Linked DNA regions of Homo sapiens. The protein of the gene in region 2 interacts with the protein of the main gene of each other region in a biochemical or structural test. Each region holds a gene or a part of one and is shown on either strand. Other genes may lie near its edges.

Region 1 (7,748 bases), on a different chromosome or scaffold from region 2:
ACCCGCCCATGAGCAGTACATCTCGTCTCATCCTCCTCGGCGGCTTCAGCAGCTACAAGGAATGTCCCGCAACACTCTGGAGCCCTTTTCCTTCACCTCATCTCAGCCGCTCCTGTGAACTCACCCTGGCCCTGTCACCAGCTCTAAAATCTCCATTCTAGGCATCGATTCTTCCTTCTCTGACCACTGCCTTCGTGCCCTCTCCTGTTCCAGCCACCTCTGTCTCAGTCCTCCCACCTCACCGACCCCCAGCCGTGCACTCTCCCATCCCTCCCTGCCCATCAGGCCTCCTGGCCACCCCTTCCCTTCCTGTCCCATCCAGCGTCCCTGCGCCATCCTCCATCCACGCCTTAGCCCCAGGCCTCCTCTGTCCCCGAATGATTCCACATCCTGTCTTCGCTGCTGAAATGGGTTTTGTCAAGGGCACGGACCACCTCCACAGTACCGATGCTGAAGGTCATTTCTGTCCTCGTACTGAGCCTCTGATCAGCATGGGCATCCTGCCCGTTCTCTTCCTGGCACCCCTGTCTCCAGGTGCCACACAGGGCTGCCATTCCCCCGACCTTCCCCATCTCCCTGGGAGCTCCAGCTTGGAACCTTCTCTTCCTCCTAGCGCTAATGATTCCCAGCTCTCGACTTCCAGCTCCCCGCTCCTGAGCTTTGGAGCTCACAGCAAGCTCCGCCTCCCGGGTTCACGCCATTCTCCAGCCTCAGCCACCAGAGGAGCTGGGACTACAGGCGCCCGCCACCAGGCCTGGCTAATTTTTTGTATTTTTAGTAGAGACAGGGTTTCACCATGTTAGCCAGGATGGTCTCAATCTCCTGACCTCGTGATCCACCGGCCTCCGCCTCCCAAAGTGCTGGGATTACAGGCGTGAGCCACTGCACCCGGTGGTGGCCAGGCTGCGGGGGGTCCGGCCCCCTCCTGCTCCTGGCGGCAGCACCCACTTGAGGAGGTGACCCTCACTCATGGTGCACAAGCTGCAAACACAACAGCCCTTGGTCTGGCAGAAGAGCTCCAGCAGCTGCCCGGGGCGGGGTCAGCGCGCGGCAGGGCTGGGGCCAGGGTCCCAGGTGCCACAGGCCCGTCCCCTGGTTTGTCCCACTGGCCACTGTGACCTCTATATGTCCAAGGCCAAACTCTGCCCTCCACCTACGCCTCTCAGGACATAGCACCCCAGCCACCTGCGTGCTCAAGACAGAAACCCAGGTGTCTCCCTTGCCGCCCTCTCTGCTGTCCCCCGTGTCCCCTCTGGCCTGCTTTCGCCTCCACAAGGTACCACTTCCCCTCAGCGTTTCTCATCTCCTCCTCCATCTTGGTCTCCCTTCCCTGATCCCCAGCTGGTTCTTTGCCTCCCTGCACTCCTACCCGATTCGGGTCTTACATCCTGCCCCCTTCAGCCCCCAGCCAGGTGATCAGTCTCCATGAAGCCCAAATCTGATCATGTGCCAACCTGCTTCCAAGCCTATAATGGCCCCCATGACCCTACAGTAAGAGCCAGACTCCCCCAGGACCCTGCCCGATCCTGCCCCTGCTGACCCCCAGGGCCTGGCCCACAGATCTCAGTGGCACAAATCTGCCACTAGGGACCCCGCGTGCCCAGTTCTTTCCCATCCCAGAGACGGGACCAGGCTGATTCCTCTGCCTAGAATGCTCTTCCCCAGGTCTTTCTCCTGGCTTGCGCTTCCTCAATCCTCACATGCCAGCCTGAAGGCGGCCTCCCCTTCCTCCTCCTGGCCCGTTTAGCAGGGTCACCCCAACCCCTCTATCACATGCCATGTGCTTTCCTCACTGCATTTTGTAATAATACATTCACGCCTTACTGGAACACTGACTTCTTAAGTGGATTCTAAGTCTCTTAAGGGCAGGGAGCTCGTCTGATCCATTTACCAACAGCCCCCATAGCCCCCTCGCCCTCCACAACCCCGCACAGCGAATGAAAGGAGGCTCTCGGAGCGCAGGAGACACACGACGGTTCTCTAGCGCTTGGGCACGGAGCAGGGAGCTGCTGCCTCACGCCCAGGCTTTGTTCATCCAGAGGGCACCGAGCAGCTTCTGAGACCCACCCTGTGTCACTGGCCGGGCTGCATATCCCAGTCTGATGCACAGACCCACGATTTTTTGTTTGTTTATTTTCTGAGACGGAGTCTCGCTCTGTCGCCCAGACTGGAGTGCAGTGGCACGATCTCGGCTTACTGCAAGCTCCACTTCCCGGGTTCACGCCATTCTCCTGCCTCAGCCTCCCGAGTAGATGGGACTACAGGCGCCCGCCACCACGCCCGGCTAACTTTTTGTATTTTTAGTAGAGACCGGGTTTCACCGTGTTAGCCAGGATGGTCTCGATCTCCTGACCTCGTGATCCGCCCGCCTCGGCCTCCCAAAGTGCTGGGATTACAGTCGTGAGCCACTGCGCCTGGCAGACCCACGACTTTTATAATCAGCTCCCAGGTTGGGAGAAGCCCCTTACAGATGAGGCTCCCCGCCCCCGCCGGGTGCCCGAGAGAGCAGGGCGCGGCCCGCAGGAGTCACCCGGCGGTGGCCAGGCTGCGGCGGGTCCGGACCCCTCCCGCTCCCGGCGGATGCGTCACCTCGCGCTTGAGGCGCTCGGCATCCAGCAGCGCCCGCTCGTGGAGGCGACACTCGCGCACGGTGCACACGCTGCACACACAGCGGCCCTCGGTCCGGCAGAAGAGCTCCAGCGGCCGCCCGTGGCGGGGGCAGCGCGCGGCAGGGTCGGGGCCGGGGCCGGGATCGGGGCCGGGATCCCGGGCGGGCCCGGCGCGCACCACCTCCAGCACGCCGCTGAGGGCCACGTTGCGGCGCAGCTCGGCGCCGTCGGGAAAGGGCTCCCGGCACTCGGGGCACGCCTTTCCGCAGCGGTCCCACCAGTCCCGGATGCAGGCCCCGCAGAAGTTGTGGCCGCAGGGCAGCGTCACTGGGTCCTGGTAGAGCCCCAGGCAGATGGCGCAGGTCAGCTTCTCCTCCAGCAGCTGCGCGGCCATGGCCCGGCGGCGGCGAGAGCCAGGCGGGCCCCGGGCGTCTTAAAGGGACCGCGGGCCTCGCGCGCTGAGGGCGCCTGGGCGTGGCTAACGCGGGGCGGGGCGAGATCCGGGCGGGGCGGGGCGAGATCCGCGCCCGGGAAGGCGGAGGGGGGCGGCAGGCCCTTCTCTGACACCCTCGACGAGCGACCGCCGCAGGGGCCTAGGCCACCCCTGCCCACCTCGGCCTGGCCCGCTCGAAGGTTCCGCGTTCCCGCCTTGCGCCCCTCCCTCCGTTAGGGTCCACGCCACCCCGGCTGAGAGCTGAGTTCGGCTCTCTAGGGTCCCAGCCTGGCGGGTCCATCCCACCCCCCTGGGCCTTCAGCCCAGGTCCTGGAGACCAGAGGCTCGAAAACCCCGCCAGGACTCCGGGCTTCTGACCACGGGCCGCGCGGAACCTCTTCTGGACTCATCTGCCAGTCGCCTAACAGCATAGACCCCCACCCCCAACAATCCCCCGGGGCTTGGCGATGAAACGGGCTGGCGGGCTCCCTGCAGACCCGAGCACTGCTGCACTTTTTCCTGGAGCTGGGTTTCGGACACTTGCCAGACTGGGGTGTCTCCCTTCTCTGGGCTACACGTAATTTTGGTTCTTTTAAAGTAAACAGCGAGATGGAAATGTCTGGTCACCAAGAGACAGGGACCAGTTAACTGGTATTTTTCAAATGGCCCTGAATGAATACACAAACCAGCTTTCATCTGCAATCAGCATCCCCTCTTCCTGCTGCCCTCCGCTGGGGAGAGTTCCTTGCCTGGGGTCCAAGCTGATCTGCAGCCTCAGTATTTACAGGCACTCCAGCATTTCCCCTGAAGCTGAGCAGGCAAGGCGGGTCTGGGGCCTAGCGCCCACCTACCTGACAGTGTGTATCAGGCCAGGGGGAACCCCAGGAGAGTACGGCCTTTCTAACCAAGCTGGGCTGATGTTGAGGCGGCACGAGCTCTCACTGCTGCAGCAAGCACTGCGTCCTCTGTGCGGCCATAGACGAAGTTTCTTTCTGGACAAAGTGCACGGATCTACCCTCCACCTACTAGTTAGCCAGACTTCTGCTTTTGGTAAGGGAGAAACAAAACACCTAACCATCCAGCCGCAAGACTCCATGGGTTTTCTGACCCTGAGCAGGTCTCTTGAGACACGCTGTTGCCTACCTAATGTGGCTTCTCCTCCCAAGCATGGGGTGGGGGCTGGAGCCTGTGCAGAGGGTCAGTGCTCGGGCAGGCACTCTCTCTCCAGGGGCCGGTGGGACCCCCCTGAGGCACAGAGCCAGTGCTCAATAAATGCTCCTTCCTGAGCCCAGCTGCTCTGCTCCACTTTTTCGGGGAGCTGGGTTTCAGGAACCTGCTGGATTGGGATGTCTCCCTTCCCTGGGCCACACCTGTTTTTGGCCCACTGCCTGCTTTTGCTTCGGATCCCAGGGCCCCTGACACCCTCAGAAGACGGAGGTGAGGACGCACTTAGTGGGGTGGGAGGCAGCCCGTTTCCCACCCATGAAGCTCCATCGGGGTCCTCTGGCCCTGGAGCACCGACCCAGGCCAGCTATGGCAGAAATCCCTTTTTTTAAAAAATACAGGCAGGGTCTCATTATATTGCCAGCTGGTCTTGAACTCCTGGGCTCAAGCGACCCTCCCTTCTCAGCCTCCCAGTGTTGGAATTACAGGTGTGAGCCACCAAGCCCGGCAAGAAATCATGTTTATTCACATTCCCCACCCCACCACCTGAGAGTCACTTTCACTCCAAGCCCTGGGCCTGACGGGAGGGGGCCAAAGAGGGGGGCTGCCTAAGGCAGGGCCCAGACCCCACAGTGTGGGCCTCTGGAGCTGTGTCTTTACTCTTGCTGCCGATCAATCCCATGCTCTGAAATGCGCACACTCTGGCTCCTTAGTAGATGCCATAGGTGGGCTCATGACTGTCCCTGTACCGGTCCAGGTAGCGCAGGGGCTGCCGGTGGGGGAAGCGCTTCTGCTTGGGGTGGTAAGGGGGCGGCCGCACGAACTCAAACACCGGCTCCCGCATGTCTGCAAGAAGAGTGAGGGGTACGGGGTGGTCTGCTGGCCTGCGCCCCCTCAGGCTGAGGCCTGCCCACCAGGGACCTGCCGCAGCCTTCCCCTAACAAAGCTTCTCCCTGGCAGGGCAGGCGAGGCCTGGGAGCTCAGGCCCACCCAGTGCCCCAGCCCCATGGCCCTTACCCAGAAGCTGGTGGAAGATGTAGGTGACGGAGTCATCCCAGCGGCACTGGAAGAAGGACAAGCCGGCTGGAGTCATGGTTTCTTGGTGTTTCTTGTAGAAATCAAAAGTGCGGAAGGTCCGCTGGGCCAGCTGATAGCTATGAGAAGATAGAGAGCGTATGAGAGTGTGGAGTGGGGCACCAGAGCCCCTCACCCCGCCACCCCAACAGGTAACCCTGAGAGGCCCCTGGGAGTCTGCTAGCACCCTATCCTGCTCTTCTGCCAGTCTCAAGGCTGAGGTCAAGAGAGAACTGAGCAAGAGTGACCGTTCCAGGGGAGCTGGCCTGAGGCCGGGTTATGTGTGGGTGGTGTAGATTACCAGGGTGAGGGGCGTGCGTCCTCAGAGAAGTCAATCGGCTGGTCCTGCTTGAAGAGCAGGAAGGCAAGACGGTGGATGCCGGAGCCTCGGGCAGGGAAGGGGGGGAGGTAGGGACACGTCACCTGTCCTTCAGCCACCCGGTTACCCGGGATGTTGGTTCTGGGAGGAGGAAAGTCCCGGTTAATTACCACTCCAGGGAGGCAGCAGGAGTGTCCCCTCAGCTCCATGCACACCCTAGAGGCTGACATGACTCCCTGGGAGGACAGCTCTAAGCATCTCTCTCCTGGGACAGAGGAGGCAGCCAAGCTCTGTGAACGCCGGGACATGCTGCAAATACGGGAAGCGGGCTGGAGGAGCTCCGAGTGGGGGACAGGGCTCCAGAGAGCATCAGCTTGACAGCAAGGCCATGCAGCCGCTTCCAGGCCCCGGGAGCCGGTGGGTCCGCCACAGTCACTGAGGCTAGAAAGCCAGGCCACTTTTGGCTGCTTTTCCCTCTGCGTCCTGAAGTCTCCAGGACCTCGTCAGGGAGTGTGTGCCCAGCCTGGCACAGGGGCGGCCAACGCCTCAGGCACAAATCCCCAGAGGGTCCTGCCGCATAGGCTGGTAACAGTTGAATAAAAATGACGGAAACCAGCCTCCCAGTCACTGTCCCCAGTTAACCAGAAGGCTCAAAGTTGGGGTCACTGGCCTGACCTCTGCCCCCTGGCCTGGTGTTCAGAGCCAAAAGCTACCAAGATGGAAGGCCGCCCAGTCTGGGCCCAGGGAAGGAGCGCCCAGTGGTTCAAGGAGCACCTGGGGGACGCCACAGCTGCTAGGCCTCTCCCGCTCCTTCTCCCACGTGACTGTCACAGTCCACCTCACGCTGAGTAAGGCATGTGGTGCCATTATCCCAGTTTTACAGGTGAAGAAATGAGTTTAGAGACGAAGGGCCCAGGCATGGTGGCTCACGCTTATAATCCTAGCACTTTGGGAGGCGGAGGCGGGCAGATCGCTTGAGCTCAGGAGACCAGCCTGGGCAACATGGTGAAACCCTGTCTCTATAAAAAAATACAAAAATTAGCTGGGTGTAGTGGTTTGCACCTGTAGTCCCAGCTACTCAGGAGACTGAGGTGGGAAGAGCACCTGAGCCCAGGAGTTAGCGGCTGCAATTAGCCATGATTGCACCACTGTACTCCAGCCTGGGGGACAGAGTGAGACCCTGTCTCAAAAAAAAAAAAAAAAAAGAAAAGAAAAGATGAGGAGGCTTGTGGGGACTGACCGAGGCCTACTGCAAACTTTGTCTCCTGTAGCTGTCTTCAAGTAGACACGTGGATCCCAGGGCCCCTAACACCCTCAGGAGGCAGAGGTGGCAGGTGAATTCAAGGTCCCATGGGTAGTCCATGAAACTCAGGAGCAGCTCAGTCCAGGCTCCCAGCTCCTCTTCCCGCCTGGGCAGCACCCCCTACCCCCAGTACTCCAGTACTCACAGCAGCCAGTGGAGGTACTCAGCATCTGGCTCCAGCAGGTGCCCATCTGCACAAAAACACACCTGCTGACCACGGCCCAGCCGACCACGGCCCTGCCACCCCCTCCCTTGTTAGGAGCCAGCGCTGGAGATCTCCACCTGGCCCCTCCCCCAGCCCCCCAGGGCCCTGGCTCATAGGAGGTGAGCGGGGCAGGAGGCCTGGTGAGCCCCAGACACCCACCCAAGCTAGTGAGTAGCAACGTCCACAAGGAGCCCTCTTCTGCCTCATAGGTCACCTCTGGCGCTTGGGCAGCCTGGCAGGGTGAGAAGGAAGCTGTCAGCCCCACCAGGGACAGGCCAGCTGTTGCAGGGAGCCTTGGAGAAAGGGGTGCCCACTCTGACCCAAAAGCCCTTGACAACCCCTGGCACAGGCAGGCAGGCAAAGGGATGCGTAGAGAAGCAGCCCTGCAGAGTTGCCTGTCCAGGCAACAACCACAAAAACGAACATGTGCCAAGGCCGGGCCAGGAGGGCACACCACAGACAGCAGGCTGGTCACAGGAATGTGCTAAGACAGAGCCTCTTTTTCCTTCATTTTGTTCTATTTTCTTTGAAATTGTCATGGTGTCGTCTTCCAGGAAATCAAAGAGACAGAGAACAACAAAATTCCAAACCCAGGAGTGTCTGTGACACTGAGATGGGATGTGTCTGTGTTTGCACAGGGC
Region 2 (7,017 bases):
TTTAAGACAAAAGAGACGGTAATGGTAGAAAAGAGATAAAAGAATTGAAAATTGTGACTGATGTTAGCAGCCTTGAATGTACCAAATGACCAAGGGTATCAGAAGAGAGATTGGTAAAAATAATAGGTTCTAAGAAATTGATTATAAAATAGGATCCTAAGCAGAAAAAATGCATCCTGAGAATCTCTAGTACCCCATTATGTTCTTCACTTAGTAGTATGCCATTTCTCCTCTTTTCACTAATTCTTTTCCCCCTTTTTTCCCCTACAGACATTCCATACACCAAGCTTGGGTGATGAGGAATTTGAAATCCCACCTATCTCCTTGGATTCTGATCCCTCATTGGCTGTCTCAGATGTGGTTGGCCACTTTGATGACCTGGCAGACCCTTCCTCTTCACAGGATGGCAGTTTTTCAGCCCAGTATGGGGTCCAGACATTGGACATGCCTGTGGGCATGACCCATGGCTTGATGGAGCAGGGCGGGGGGCTCCTGAGTGGGGGCTTGACCATGGTAAGGGGCAAGACATTGTCAGGCTTACCCCAGCTAATGGGCATGGCATTAGGGGAGACAAAGTTACTCTATTCCCTGCTACACTTGGGTATTACTTGTTTCTCTTCTTGTGGCTAAAGGCTCACCAACAAAGACTTAATTTCACCTGAATAAATGAAATTTACCATGTAGGTAGATTTTACTTGAAAAATAATTTAAAATTGTACAATGTCTGGTTTGAAAATTATTTATTGTGGTTTTTGGGAAAAAGTGTTTTCTGCTTTTATTATGGCCTTCACATCCTAGGATTCAAATTTGAATGTGATAGCTGGCACACGGAGGGATTTATTCAAAAATGGCCTGAATCACGTTGAGCAGCCAGCAGAACAGAGCTTAAAAAAAAAAAAAAAGTCTGAGCCAAATATAGTATTGTGGATTAGTATGTAATATAAATCAGTATATTGGGCTTCCAGCACATCGAACCAGTAAGCACATCTTCATACTCTATATTTGATGCCAGACTTTAATATTGGCCTTATTTATGCTGATTGCCTATGTATTACAATTTTAAAAGCTATTATTTTGGGAGAGTACAGATAGGAAGTTTTTCTTTACTCAATGTGTTGTCACTACCTATATATTACTGAATAAGTTGATAGCTCTTTGACTTGTCCAACAGTGCGACTTCTCTGATTATTTTTAGTTCTTCTTTTGAGTGCAAAGAAGTAAATTCATTAATTTCTGTACTTTTTTAAAAAGCTTATTTTTTTATTTTCATTTTTGAAGACTATTTTATGTTTTGTATTTTAAATGATACAATTTGGGTAGGCAGGGAATTTATAAGCTGTCTTAAATTTAGGGGGGAAAAGTGGTTTTTTTTATATTTAGTGTTTAATTAGTCCTTCTGCTTCTCTCAGGACTTGGACCACTCTATAGGAACTCAGTATAGTGCCAACCCACCTGTTACAATTGATGTACCAATGACAGACATGACATCTGGCTTGATGGGGCATAGCCAGTTGACCACCATTGATCAGTCAGAACTGAGTTCCCAGCTGGGTTTGAGCCTAGGGGGTGGCACCATCCTGCCACCTGCCCAGTCACCTGAAGATCGTCTTTCAACCACCCCTTCACCTACTAGTTCACTTCACGAGGATGGTGTTGAGGATTTCCGGAGGGTGAGGCATTCCCTGTCAAAATCAATTCTGCTGTGATAGTCTGGGATAAAATTTTTGGGATACAGAGCCTAATCAGTATTCTTTACCCTTGCCGTGCCATCTCCTCTGCTGTTTTCTGGGTATGGGGTTCCACCTCCCAATTTCCAGTTTATAATTCTCCTCTCAATCCCTATTCTTATTGGTTCTCCATATTTGACTAATGTCTTTTAATGCTATTTCTATGATTTTTAGCATTTCTGAAAATTCCATACATGTGGCTAGTTTCCAGACATAATACTTGTCATTGTCCATTGTGTAATTCTCTCTTTTTTCTCTCCTACAGCAACTTCCCAGCCAGAAGACAGTCGTGGTGGAAGCAGGGAAAAAGCAGAAGGCCCCAAAGAAGAGAAAAAAGAAAGATCCTAATGAACCTCAGAAACCAGTTTCAGCATATGCTTTATTCTTTCGTGATACACAGGCTGCCATCAAGGGACAGAATCCTAATGCCACTTTTGGTGAGGTTTCAAAAATTGTGGCCTCCATGTGGGATAGTCTTGGAGAGGAGCAAAAACAGGTGAGCAAATATTGAGGAACTAGTAGTGAATGTTCCAGAAGTTTTTAAAGAGATAAAAATTGAGGTTTTCTTTTTTCTTACATGTCCTTATCTAATATCAGCTGTTTGTTAATGACACTTAAATATCATCCCTTGTCTTCGAAGTTGCAGCCATACACTCACTCCAGAAAACCTATTTAAATTTTTTTTTTTTGAGACAGAGTCTCGCTCTGTCACCCAGGCTGGAGTGCAGTGCCGTGATCTCAGCTCACTGCAAGCTCCGCCTCCTGGGTTCACGCCATTCTCCTGCTTCAGCCTCCCGAGTAGCTGGGACTGCAGGCGCTTCCACCACACTGGGCTAATTTTGTTTTTGTATTTTTAGTAGAGACGGCGTTTCACCATGTCAGCCAGGATGGTCTCGATCTCCTGACCTCGTGATCCACCCGCCTCGGCCTCCCAAAGTGCTGGGATTACAGGCATGAGCCACTGCGCCCGGCCTATTTAAAAATTATTAATAGGCTGAGTGTGGTGGCTCATGCTTTTAATCCCAGCACTTTGGGAGGCCAGGGCAGGAGGATTGCTTGAGCCCATGAGTTCGAGACCATCCTGGGCAACATAGGGAGACCCCCGTCTCACAGAAAATTAGCTGGGTGTGGTGGCATGTGCCTTTGGTCCCAGCTGTGGAGGCTGAGGCGGGAGGATTGCTTGAGTTCAGGATATAAAGGCTGCAGTGAGCCATGTTTGTGTCACTGCACTCCAGCCTGGGTGACAGAGCAAGACCCCGGCTCAAATAAATAAATAATAATTGTTATAGGCCGGGCGCGGTGGCTCACGCCTGTTAATCCCAGCACTTTGGGAAGCCGAGGCAGGCGGATTACGAAGTCAGGAGATCAACACCATCCTGGCTGACATTGAAACCCCGACTCTACTAAAAATACAAAAAAATTAGCCGGGTGTGGTGGCATGCCTCAAATCCCAGCTACTCAGGCGGCTGAGGCAGGAGAATTGCTTGAACCCGGGAGGCAGAGGTTGCGGTGAGCCGAGATCATGCCATTGCACTCCAGCCTGGGCAACAAGAGTGAAACTCCATCTCAAAAAATAATAATAATTGTTACAGAAGTACTGCATCTTTACAATAACTCTCAAAAATAGCTACCATTTCCCGCTTTTAAGGTGGAAACTGGAGCCCACTGCCCAGTTAAGGTCATATAACATTTAAGTGGTAAAGTTGAGACACAATCCAGGTTCTTTAACTCTTCCCATGTACTTTCCACTAATAATGTCTCCTATAATTCCTCATGTAGTGTCCTTCTGTTCAATTTTTAGATATTTAACTTTTCTAAGTCTCATTTTTTCCCCCATTTATAAAATTAGGCTATTACTTGATAAGCTGCATGCTGTGGCTAACTCTCAAATCCACTACCAAGTTTGGATTTAGAATTACTTGTTTGTTTGTTTTTGAGATGGAATTTCGCTCCTGTTACCCAGGCTGCAGTGCAGTGGTGCAATCTCAGCTTACTGCAACTTCCACCTCCTGGGTTCAAGTGATTCTCCTGCCTCAGCCTCCCAAGTAGCTGGGATTACCGGCATGTGCCGCCACACCCAGCTAATGTTGTATTTTTAGTAGAGACAGGGTTTCACCGTGTTGGTCAGGCTGGTGCCAAACTCCTGACCTCAGGTGATCCGCCTGCCTTGTCCTCCCAACGTGCTGGGATTACAGGTGTGAGCCACCGCACCTGGCCTATTTTTTTTCTTTCTTTTTCTTTTTTGGATTTAGAGTTTAAAAACTTTTTAGAGCTAGCCCAGATTCAAAGGAGGGGGAAATAGGCTTCAGCTCTTGAAGGGAGAAAGGTCATATGGGAGGAGTTGTTGTGGCCATCTTTGCAAACAATTTACCACATTCCATAAGGGAAAATATACTGGTTAGACACAGTCCCAGGCTAAGACACAGTTTTTGGATTAGGGTTTATTTTGTATTTATTTATTTATTTTTTTGAGACAGAGTCTCACTGTGTCGCCCAGGCTGGAGTGCAGTAGCACAATCTTGGTTGACTGCAAGCTCTATCTCCCAGGTTCACGCCATTCTCCTGCCTCAGCCTCCTGAGTAGCTGGACTATAGGCGCCCATCACCACGCCGGGCTAGTTTTGTTTTTGTTTTTTTTAGTAGAGATCGGGTTTCACCAGGTTAGCCAGGATGGTCTCAATCTCCTGACCTCGTGATCTGGCCACCTTGGCCTCCCAAAGTGCTGGGATTACAGGCGTGAGCCACCGCACCTGGCAGATTAGGGTTTATTTTTGTTACAGAAGTGAGCATGGGTTGATGTTTGCCTTAAATGTAGCTATTCTCGGCCAGGCGTGGTGGCTCACGCCTGTAATCCCAGCACTTTGGGAGGCAGAGGCAGGCGGATCACAAGGTCAGGAGATCGAGACCATCCTGGCTAACACAGCGAAACCCCATCTCTACTAAAAATACAAAAAATTAGCCGGGCGTGGTGGCGGGTGCCTATAGTCCCAGCTACTCAGGAGGCTGAAGCAGGAGAATGGCATGAACCTGGGAGGCAGAGCTTGCAATGAGCCAAGATCACGCCACTGCACTCGAGCCTGGGCGAGAGAGCACGACTCTGTCTCAAAAAAAATTTAAAAAAAATAAAATAAATGTAGCAAAATAAAATAAATGTAGCTATTCTTGCCAGACTCCTGTCGATTGGTTGTCTTTCAGAGGTATGCTCAGTGGAGTGAGTCTGCCATGGAGGTTGTCTTGACTGTTAGCTTTCAGAATTGAATTCACTGATAGAGGTTGTCAGTGATTAGACTAAGATGAATTGTCATTCATTGATAAATAATACAGAACTATCAGTCTTTCCTAAGAGTATGGGGAGTTTTGTTTTTTTTTTTAAAGTCTCTTTTTTGCAGGTATATAAGAGGAAAACTGAGGCTGCCAAGAAAGAGTATCTGAAGGCACTGGCTGCTTACAAAGACAACCAGGAGTGTCAGGTAAGAGGGATAGGATAGAATGAATATTTAAACCAGTAAGAAGTTTTTTGGAAGTGTTTGTTAGCAGTTTTAAGAAGTAAATACCACCAAGTGATTGATTAATTGATAGATTGATTTATGTCTTCTTTTAGGCCACTGTGGAAACAGTGGAATTGGATCCAGCACCACCATCACAAACTCCTTCTCCACCTCCTATGGCTACTGTTGACCCAGCATCTCCAGCACCAGCTTCAATAGAGCCCCCTGCCCTGTCCCCATCCATTGTTGTTAACTCCACCCTTTCATCCTATGTGGCAAACCAGGCATCTTCTGGAGCTGGGGGTCAGCCCAATATCACCAAGTTGATTATTACCAAACAAATGTTGCCCTCTTCTATTACTATGTCTCAAGGAGGGATGGTTACTGTTATCCCAGCCACAGTGGTGACCTCCCGGGGGCTCCAACTAGGCCAAACCAGTACAGCTACTATCCAGCCCAGTCAACAAGCCCAGATTGTCACTCGGTCAGTGTTGCAGGCAGCAGCAGCTGCTGCTGCTGCTGCTTCTATGCAACTGCCTCCACCCCGACTACAGCCCCCTCCATTACAACAGATGCCACAGCCCCCGACTCAGCAGCAAGTTACCATTCTGCAGCAGCCTCCTCCACTCCAGGCCATGCAACAGCCTCCACCTCAGAAAGTTCGAATCAATTTACAGCAACAGCCTCCTCCTCTGCAGATCAAGAGTGTGCCTCTACCCACTTTGAAAATGCAGACTACCTTAGTCCCACCAACTGTGGAAAGTAGTCCTGAGCGGCCTATGAACAACAGCCCTGAGGCCCATACAGTGGAGGCACCTTCTCCTGAGACTATCTGTGAGATGATCACAGATGTAGTTCCTGAGGTGAGCCTTTGTTTTTAAGTCTTTAGTCTAGTGGAAATGTATAAAAATGTTTTTGGTTGACCCAATAACAGTGGGGGTTGCTACTAGCATTTAATGCCCAGCAACCAGGAGCACAAAACATCCTGCAGATGGGAGTTCCTTGCAGCAGTTGACTTCTCTTACCCAAGGTACTCATACTGTTTTTTTTTTGTTTGTTTGTTTTTGAGATGGAGTTTCACTCATTGCCCAGGCTGGAGTGCAATGGTGCGATCTCGGCTCACTGCAACCTCTACCTCCTGGGTTCAAGAGATTCTCCTGCCTCAGCCTCCCGAGTGGCTGGGATTACAGGCATGTGCCACCATGTCCGGCTAATTTTGTATTTTTAGTAGAGACGGTTTCTCCATGTTGGTCAGGCTGGTCTCGAACTCCTGATCTCAGGTGATCTGCCTGCCTCGGCCTCCCAAAGTGCTGGGATTACAGGTGTGAGCCACTGCACCCGCCCTGTTTTGTTTTGTTTTGTTTTGTTTTTCTTGAGACGGAGTCTCGCTCTGTTGCCTGGGCTGGAGTGCAGTGGTGTAATCTTGGCTCACTGCAATCTCCACCTCCTAGTTCAAGTGATTCTCCTGCCTCAGCCTCCCGAGTAGCTGGGATTACAGGCGCCCACCACTACACCCAGCTAATTTTTTGTATTTTTATTAGAGACAGAGTTTCACCATGTTCATTGGGCTGGTCTTGAACTCCTGACCTCGTGATTCGCCCGCTTCGGCCTCCCAGAGTGCAGGGATTACAGGCGTGAGCCACCGTGTGCCCCATAGTGTTTTTAGTGAGATACATTAAGACAGTCTTCTGCCCCAGACCACTCCTTAACTAAGCAGAGGTCACTAGTTCAACTGGACAGGATATAGCCTAAACAGTTATTATTCAGAGTTGTTACCCAAGGATCCTAAACTTTGGACATGCA

The links. The genes of interacting proteins can lie anywhere in the genome.
Region 1: the proteins of TOX4 (region 2) and TRIM65 form a complex in vitro, tested with the Homo sapiens proteins (one study listed by BioGRID).

The regions. Positions count from the first base shown.
Region 1 is NC_000017.11:75,893,935-75,901,682, forward strand, and holds the start of TRIM65 (E3 ubiquitin-protein ligase TRIM65), read right to left. Parts: upstream 3,018-7,748; 5' UTR 3,004-3,017; coding exon 2,590-3,003; intron 1-2,589. Other genes in the region: MRPL38 (large ribosomal subunit protein mL38 precursor), read right to left, coding at 4,916-5,052, 5,224-5,360, 5,582-5,740, 7,048-7,093, 7,267-7,339. UniProt on the Homo sapiens protein: E3 ubiquitin ligase that plays a role in several processes including innate immnity, autophagy or inflammation.
Region 2 is NC_000014.9:21,487,181-21,494,197, forward strand, and holds part of TOX4 (TOX high mobility group box family member 4), read left to right. Parts: intron 1-270; coding exon 271-513; intron 514-1,409; coding exon 1,410-1,670; intron 1,671-1,992; coding exon 1,993-2,223; intron 2,224-5,115; coding exon 5,116-5,196; intron 5,197-5,327; coding exon 5,328-6,077; intron 6,078-7,017. UniProt on the Homo sapiens protein: Transcription factor that modulates cell fate reprogramming from the somatic state to the pluripotent and neuronal fate. In liver, controls the expression of hormone-regulated gluconeogenic genes such as G6PC1 and PCK1.